Linked DNA regions of Homo sapiens: regions 2 and 3 are each linked to region 1. The links come from fine-mapping of genetic effects on gene expression. A gene starts in region 1. Each other region holds a variant in brackets. All regions are shown on one strand. Distances are between the middles of the regions.

Region 1 (2,500 bases):
GTGGATGGGACAGCCAGAAGCCCTGCCTATTTCCTGTTTCTCTCCAGGACTCCTGGGACCCATCTGAGCCATCCCTCTACGAACACTCATTTTTTCCTGAGCTGTGGCTCATTCAGCTAGGGTCCAAGAGCGGAGGACTTTTGGTATGAAAAATAAACCAAAGGACACTGGGATTGGGCTGGATTTGAATGAGCAGGTCCAGGGGACTCTGGGCAAGTCCCTCCTTGCCTCAGTTTCCCTGCAGGAAGGTAACCAGTCCAGTCGGATGGTCCTGGAGGATGATCTAGAGGCTGTTTGTGGGATGGATGCAGCTTGGGAGACAGTGACAAGGGTGCGGTGGAGGCTCAGGGTGTTGCAACACCTAAAAGAGCCTCTAGGCCTGAGCCTGGATGCACCCTCCGCCCTCTGGCCCCGTAGTGTGTGTCTGAGACAGAGTGAGACACCAGCAACATATGCTTGGATCAGGGACGGAAGGGACTGAAATTAGGCTAGCATCCGGGCTGCTCACCGGGGAGGACTGAGGGGTAGATATAGCCAGGGTGGGGAAGGGGGCTAGAGGGGAGGATATAGCCAGGGTGGGGAAGGGGGCTGGAGGGAAGGATACAGCCAGGGTGGGGAAGGGGGCTGGAGGGGAGGGAGACCATGGGGCTGCCACCTGCCAGTTCTGAGGCCTTTCTAGCTTGATGCCTCCGCGTGTTTCTCTGGCCACACACAATTCCCCAGGGACCGTCTGATAAACCAAAGGAGTGTGACCAACTGGACAGGGTCGGAGGAGTGGCTCTGGCCTAAGCGTGCGACGGGTGTGTCAATCGGAGAATAACTGGGAGAGTGAGCTAGGGTCTGGATGCTCCTGGTCTCTCTCCCCTACCGGCCTGTCTCTGGGTCTAAGGGTGGGGGTGCTAACTGAAGCCGGGGTCCCCCTTGTCTTTCCTGGGTCGTTGGAACTGAATGCTCCAGGACGTGGGTTTAATCCCGCTTCTGACCTTGCGCCCCAATCTCCTGCTCTGCCAAACCTGGGACGCCCGCCTGACCCCACCCCATCAGCTGGAGGCCGGGTCGAACAGCGGCCGCAGGACGCGGTCTCCGTTCCCGGACGCAACCGCACGGCCCGCCCAGGCCGTCCAGGGCCCTCAGGCCCGGGATCCGCCGCACTCACCACGGTCCTGGCAGCGAAGGCTAACATCTTCGCTGCCCGTCCGCGGACACGCAGTCCGCTCCGCCCCACACACCGGGCAAAGTCCGCGCCGCCGCCGCCGCGGCTGGGGTCGGTGGGTCCTTGCTAGAGCCTTCGGGCCAAGGTCGCTGAGTTACAGCCGCCAGCCGGTAGAGGCAGCCCCGCGCCCACCCTCTGGGCCGAGCGGGCTGCGGGAAGGCACCCGGGGAGGAGGACTCGCGAGGCGGGGCCTGGGCCGGTAGCGGGCCCCGGGCGGGCAACGGTGCCCGGGAGGTTGGCTGTGGGGCGGGGACGGGGCATCGATGGGGCGGAGTCTCCTTGAGGAGGGACAGGAGGGGCGGGGACGGAGGGGCGGGGCGTCGCCCGGTAGCGGGTCGCAGTAGGCTGGCTGCGAGTCGGGGGCGGGACCACGGCGGGCGGGGACAGAGGGGCAGGGCCGAGGGCGAGTCATTGAGACCTGTGGAGGAGGAAGGAGGAGGTCACCGTCCAGCTGTCTCTCCCCTGTCCCCACATGTCTTCTAAGCTGTTGGAGGTAGTGGTGTGCACCTTTCCAACTCCGTCTGGTGTCCTTGAGCCTAACTCTTAGAGTGATAGGAAAACACAACCATGTTGACCGGGGAATGTCCTCTAATATTCCTTGGGTTAGGGTCAGTACCACCCACAAAGATGACAGGTGGTACTCCGGGACAGGAGACTGTCCCGGAAAAACATGGCTGAGCACAACCCAAACTTGACGCCCCGCACAATCGTGGCAGTCGCGGCGCCCGACGTTCGGGCGGCCGTGAGCGGTCCTAGCGCTTGGCGGCCGTTGGCGCGCATGCGCCCCGCGCGCCCCGCACTGACATGGCCGTCGCCCGGTTCCGCGCGTCCGCCGCGCGCCGGCCGTTAATAGGCTTGCTCCCTGAGCGCCCCGCACCGACATGGCGGCCGTCTTCGCTGTGGTGACTTTAACTCTCGGTTTTCGGTTATAGCCGGCCGGCGCTCACTTGTCTTCAGGAAGCTCGGAGCCTTTGGTGGAGCCGGGGAGAGGAAGGGTGGGTGCAAGAGTGAAAGGCGAGAGGGGACTGCAAGCATCCGGGTCGGCTCCTGGCCGGAGCAAGATGGCTGAGGGCGAGCGGCAGCCGCCGCCAGGTAAGGCCGGCGGGGCCAGGCCGGGCCGGGGTCGGGTAGGGTGGGGGCGGTGCCAGGTGTGGGAGGCTCAGGAGGGCGAGAGTCATGACACGGAGGAACTGGAGGGGCAAAAGCTGAGGGGCCCCGAGGAGGGACTGAGTTGAATGGCCTTAGGGGAGAGGTGGGTGGTGGGGCGCCGCTGGGGAGGGAACCAGG
Region 2 (2,842 bases), 41 kb before region 1:
TGCTTCTCTCCACAGAGCCCCAAAGGCTTCCTGGAGAGCTACGAGGAGATGCTGAGCTATGCCCTGCGGCCCGAGACCTGGGCCACAACACGGCTGGAGCTGGAGGGCCGAGGGGTGAGTTGCTTTGTGCTGAACCCCGACATCCCGGGCTCCCCTGCATCTGAGCAGCAAGGGGGTTCTTGTGCCGAGCTCTAGCTCAGTTCCAAGCGGCTGAGACGGTTCCATCACTGCTCATAGTCCCCGGTTCCTGCCCTGCCCCAGGCCAAGGCAGAGGGAGGAATGGCCTCAGCTACACCCGTTGCACAGCAGAGCGGGAAAGACGTGTCCCCCCCACGTGTGCTCATGCCCTGGACCCCAGCTTCAGTCTCCCCATCTGGAAAGTGGCCCCGAGGCTCCGGCAGTGCCCCCATGCATGAGCCTCCCGGGGGCACCCTCTGTAGGTGGTATGCATGAGCTTCTTCGACATCGTGCTGGACTTCATCCTCATGGACGCCTTCGAGGACCTGGAGAACCCTCCGGCCTCGGTGCTCGCCGTCCTGCGGAACCGCTGGCTGTCAGACAGCTTCAAGGAGACGGTGGGTCACTGCCCTGCTCTCAGACCCACACTTGCTCACATCAGCCCGTGTGGTTGCCTGGCTCCGTCCCCTCTGTCCCTAGCACTGGCACCAGGGCTGGGCCCCCACCCCCTAGATCCGCGGCTGCCAGGCCTGGGAGACCAGAGTCTGCCCTGGAGAAGCCTCCAGGGTGCCCCGTTGCTGCCTGGTGCCCCAGTTTAGAACCAACATGGTGTGCGCTTTCTTCCTATTGTGTGGTTTTACTTTTGTGCTGGTATGAATTCGATTCCATTTTAATGCATCCTGTTAAATCAAGTTAAAAGAGGGGAAAGCAAAACCAAAAGGAAAAAAAGGCACAGAGTGAGAGACAACCCAGCACAGGACCCCCAGGAAGGCAAGCAGTAACGCTCCAGCAGCCGGGCTGTGCTGCCTGGGCCCAGGCTTCTGCGAGGTGGTTTACAGGCGGGAACCATTGCTCCCACAACCACCAAAGGAGGTGGGAGTGCTGTGTTGTGCCCCTTTACAGAAGAGGAGACCGAGGCTCAGAGAAGATCCAGCAGTAAGATTAGAGTCAAGATTCAAGTTTAGGTATGTCTGAGTCCAAAATCAGAGGAGGAAGCAGCAGAGCTTAGGCACCTGGCCCCATCTTCCTGCTTGGAGTGGGGTGAGCTGGGTTTAAGGGCTTGGTGCTGGGCTGGCAGAGGGCGAGGGGCTGTGGGCTAGGCCCATTTTGACACCCGGGGGACATCCTATTTTTGATGTAGGCCTTGGCCACTGCTTGCTGGTCGGTCCTGAAAGCCAAGAGGAGGCTGCTGATGGTGAGTGACTGGCAGGCCCGGGGGAGCACGAGCTGGGCTCTGAGGCAGCGTGGTGGGGAGCGGAGCGGGTGCAGGGTGGCTCGCTGGGCCACTTGGCCTTCACCGCTCACAGTCCTGGCCCCCTTGTTCCGCCGTTACCTCTCCCTGTGCCAGGAGCTCCCTGGAGGCTCGTGTAGACCCACTTCCTCTCCTCCCCAGGCCCAGCACAGAGCAGGCCACTGGGGAGGGGAACGGATACCCTAGGGTAGTGGCCACAGGGCTGGCAGCTGGCCTGGTGCAGG[C/T]GTCTCGGTGGGGGCAGGATACCCAGGAGCAAGCAGAGCCCTGTCCCTCCTGCCCTTTCCCCGCCCCAGTCAGGCCCCTGTAATCTCCGCTCCCAGGCAGCGACTGGCTGTGCTATCTGGCCTGTGGTTTGTCGTTCCCCTCTGCGGGCCAGGCTCTGTTGCCTAGCTGATACCAGCTGCCGTGGCCACGTGCTCCAGGCACTTCCCGCGGAGCCACTATGGCCCCACCTCTTGCAGTACTCACAGCGGCCCATGGTTACCCTGTCTGCAGAAGTTAAAATGGGCTTCGAAAGCTTGAGTCACTGCCCAGGGTCATCTAGCAGGAAAGTACATGAGCTGGGGCGACCTCTAAAGCCCAGCCCTTTATGCGACACCTGGGCCTGGTGCCCTCATCCTACCTGGGCCCCGCCTGGCCCCTCAGCCTTGTGCCCACCGCAGGTGCCTGATGGCTTCATCTCCCATTTCTACTCCGTATCGGAGCATGTGAGCCCTGTCCTAGCCTTCGGCTTCCTTGGACCCAAGCCTCAGCTTGCTGAAGTCTGTGCTTTCTTCAAGGTAAACAGAGAGCAGTTCTCGTTCTTTCCTGACCCTTGCCCTGAGCACAGGCGCCCTGGGAGGTGCCAGGAATGGGATGAGGGCCTGGGCCTGGGCCTGCTCCCAGAGAGAGGGCAGAGCCAGACCCACATGGGTCCAGAGGAAGCAGTGGGAGGGAGGAGCCTGGGGATGGAAAGGACCGGCTGGGGCTCTGGTGGTGGACAAGGGGACTTCAGGTAACCTGGGGGGCATCATGGTGGGCAGTGGCTGGGCCAGGCCTGACACCAGCCCTGCTCCCCCAGCACCAGATTGTGCAGTACCTGAGGGACATGTTCGACCTGGACAATGTGCGCTACACGTCACTGCCCGCGCTGGCAGACGACATCCTGCAGCTGTCCCGGCGCCGCAGCGAGATATTGCTGGGGTACCTGGGGGTGCCCGCGGCCAGCAGCGCAGGCGTGAATGGGGCGCTGCCCCGAGAGAATGGGCCCCTGGGGGAGCTGCAGTAGAGGCGGCACGGGCTGGGGGGTGGCAGAGAGAAGGCTCCTCCTCCCTTCCCTGGGTTGGTATCTGACAGCTGTGGTGGCTGAGGGCCGTTGCCCCTGACTTTGCCCCACCCCCATCATCTGGGAGTCCCCAAGGCCCAGAGGGGACA
Region 3 (2,842 bases), 78 kb after region 1:
AGGAGTTCAAGACCAGCCTGGGCAACATAGTAAGACCCCTGTCTGTAAAACAAAAACAAACTTCCTGCATCTTTGAGGCTTGATCCAATGAAAGTCTCCTTCTTTCTCTTTTTGAAGGATGTTATATGGGGAAGCCCTAATTGGCATCCCTCCCTTCCATTGGCCAGAGCTGGGTCATGTGTCATCAGCTAGCTGCAAGGGAGCCTGGGAAATTTAGTCCTCAGGTGTGCTCCAGGACTGGCAGCCCTATTTCTCCACATCCAAATGACCTGGTTCAGTGAATACACAGCGTTGCCACTGACACAGGGCCTTGAACAATGAAAAAGTGGATCTTTGACTGGTTCATTGATCACAAAAATAAGCTATGATGCTCTCAGCTGGTGGTAGGGGTGAGGGCATAGTGGGCACCTCTCATCACACAGCTACTAAGAAAATGTTTATTTTTTAACCTGTCTGTCCATCTCCCCCATTAGACTGTAAATTCCCTGAGGACAGGTCCATAAGTCTCTGCTTGGCAGCTTCCTTAGTCCTTGACAAATAATAGATGCCCAATTAGTATTTTCTCAATGAACAAACATTGCCTTCTTGAAAGGATTTTGGTGAACAACTGTTTAGCTTCTCATGCATCAGATGTGTACAAAAATATATTTTCACATCACAGCAGTCTAGCATGAAGCCCTTTTTTTTTTGAGACAGGGTCTTGCTCTGTTGCCCAGGCTGGAGTGCAGTGGTGTGATCGTGGTTCACTGCAACCTCCGACTCCCGGGCTCAAGAGATTCTCCCGCCTCAGTCTCCTGAGTAGCTCGGAATAAAGGTGCACGCCAGCATGCCTGGCTAATTGTTGTATTTTTTTTTTTTTTGGTAGAGATGGGGTTTTGCCATGTTGCCCAGGCTGGTCTCAAACCCCTGGGCTCAAATGATCTGCCTCCTTAGCCTCCCAAAGTGCTGGGATTACAGGCATGAGCCACCATGCCTGGCTGAAGGCCCTCTTTTAAAAAAAGTTTTAATCAGTCTTGTCCTTCTGCTAAGGTTGAGCACTGCTGTTTAATCAACAAGCATCATTCTTTTATTTTTCTTGAGACAGAGTCTTGCTCTGTCGCTCAGGCTAAAATGCAGTGGTGCGATCTCGGCACACTGCAACCTCTGCCTCCCAAGCTCAAGTGATTCTCCTGCCTCAGCCTCCCAGGTAGCTGGGATTACAGGCGCCCAACAACATGCCGGCTAATTTTTGTATTTTCAGTAGAGACAGGGTTTCACCATATTGGCCAGGCTGGTCTTGAAGTCCTGACCTCAGGCGATCCACCCGCCTCGGCCTCTCGAAGTGTTGGGATTACAGGCTTGAGCCACTGCACCCGGCCCCATTCACTGTTGATTCATTCACTGATTCTTTGATGACTAGAGG[G/T]ATGGATCGATTCACTCCTTCAGCGGACATTTGTTGAGTATCTACTATGTCTGATGCCCTTTCCAAGACAGAAGAGAAGGGGAAGGGACAGTGGCTTGCAATATACCCACAGAGACGGGGTTTTCTAATTGTCTAATGAAATCGATAATATTTAATTCTATGAAACCACAGCTTGATGGTCTCACCGTAATATCATACACTGAATTTAATCTATTCTAAGTCACCACCTTCCTCCCATATCTAACATCTCTAAAATTGAGAAGTGTCTTACCATTGATAACACCTTCGATTTGGCAAAGTCAGGCCATTATACTCATTGGACTAGTTAACGTTTATCTATCTATCTATCTATCTATCTATCTATCTATCTATCTATCATCTATCTATCTATCTATCTACCTATCTGATGGAGTCTTGCTCTTGTTGCCCAGGCTGGAGTGCAGTGGCGTGATCTTAGCTCACTGCAACCTCTGCCTCCCGGATTCAAGTGATTCTCCTGCCTCAGCCTCCCGAGTAGCTGGGATTACAGGCGTGTGCCACCACACCCCGCTAATTTTTGTATTTTTAGTAGAAACGAGGTTTCACCATGTTGGTCAGGCTGGTCTGGAACTCCTGACCTCAAGTGATCCTCCTGTCTTGGCCTCCCAGAGTGCTGGGATTACAGGCGTGAGCCACCACGCTCGGCCTGTTCATTTACTTTTTTATAGCCTAAGTGAACACTGAGATAATGAACATTTACAAGGCAGGCATGACATACAGCATGCCCCATCATCTCACACTTAGTGACTAGTTAGTTCTGTCCCTGTGTTGGTTAGGGCGGCCTATTAGGGTCACGGAGAGGGGAAGGGAACCATTGTTTCTTTCGAACTGAGTATATATTTGGCAGTGTGCTTGTTCATGACACAAGATTTTTAAAAACACCCCACCAAGCGCTTGTATCATCTCCATTTTACGGGGGATTTTAAGAGACCAGGGCTTTGCTGGAATCCCTCATTGGAAGAGCTGCGGTTCCAACCAGTGCTGCCCTATTCCGGAGCCCATACTCTGAATCACCCTCCACTGCTGCGTGCAGATGCCCACGCTGGGATGCAGTCGCCAGCCCCATTTCGAAAGAGGGAACTGAGGTCCACAGAGCTCACCTGCTCTTCTTAGACTCACAACGTCAGAAAGTCATAGGGCTGGGGTGTGAACCCCAGTCTCTTATTTCCCAGAACCCAAATGCTAATGGCTCTACTCTCCTGCATCTGGCTTCCCCAGGGCCTTAAAAATGAGGCTGGACTGACAGGGGGAGGGTCCTGAGACCAAGCCTGGAAAGGGAGTCTCTTTGAGCCCTTCTGTCTTTAAGATTCGGGATGAGGATGCCCGGGGCATGCCCGCCATGCCCACTAGGTTAGTTTTGGGCCAGAGGGAATCAGATTCTGATGAAGCTGAAAAGGCAGC

Evidence for each region. PIP is the estimated chance that this variant, and not a neighbour inherited with it, causes the effect.
Region 2: its variant is fine-mapped to the expression of CRAT in whole blood (INTERVAL, PIP 0.97).
Region 3: its variant is fine-mapped to the expression of CRAT in whole blood (TOPMed, PIP above 0.99).

What each region holds. Positions count from the first base shown.
Region 1 is chr9:129,109,327-129,111,826 of GRCh38, forward strand. CRAT (carnitine O-acetyltransferase) reads right to left here and starts at 1,467. Exons shown (of 14, transcript NM_000755.5): 1 at 1,157-1,467. The coding sequence starts at 1,183. It overlaps PTPA (protein phosphatase 2 phosphatase activator), which reads left to right and starts at 2,089. Exons shown (of 10, transcript NM_178000.3): 1 at 2,089-2,305. The coding sequence starts at 2,275. RefSeq lists silencers at 1,223-1,662, 2,353-2,402 and enhancers at 2,073-2,352, 2,285-2,500.
Region 2 is chr9:129,067,758-129,070,599 of GRCh38, forward strand. MIGA2 (mitoguardin 2) reads left to right here. Exons shown (of 16, transcript NM_001329990.2): 12 at 16-114; 13 at 441-575; 14 at 1,319-1,372; 15 at 2,092-2,208; 16 at 2,490-2,842. The coding sequence ends at 2,696. Among named protein-coding and RNA genes, the nearest start is that of DOLPP1, 12 kb to the right of the region's middle. RefSeq lists an enhancer at 2,000-2,139. The variant C/T (reference allele first, on the strand shown) is at 1,654.
Region 3 is chr9:129,187,073-129,189,914 of GRCh38, forward strand. All of the region lies in intron 1 of LOC105376289 (a long non-coding RNA gene), which reads left to right. Among named protein-coding and RNA genes, the nearest start is that of IER5L, 10 kb to the left of the region's middle. The variant G/T (reference allele first, on the strand shown) is at 1,403.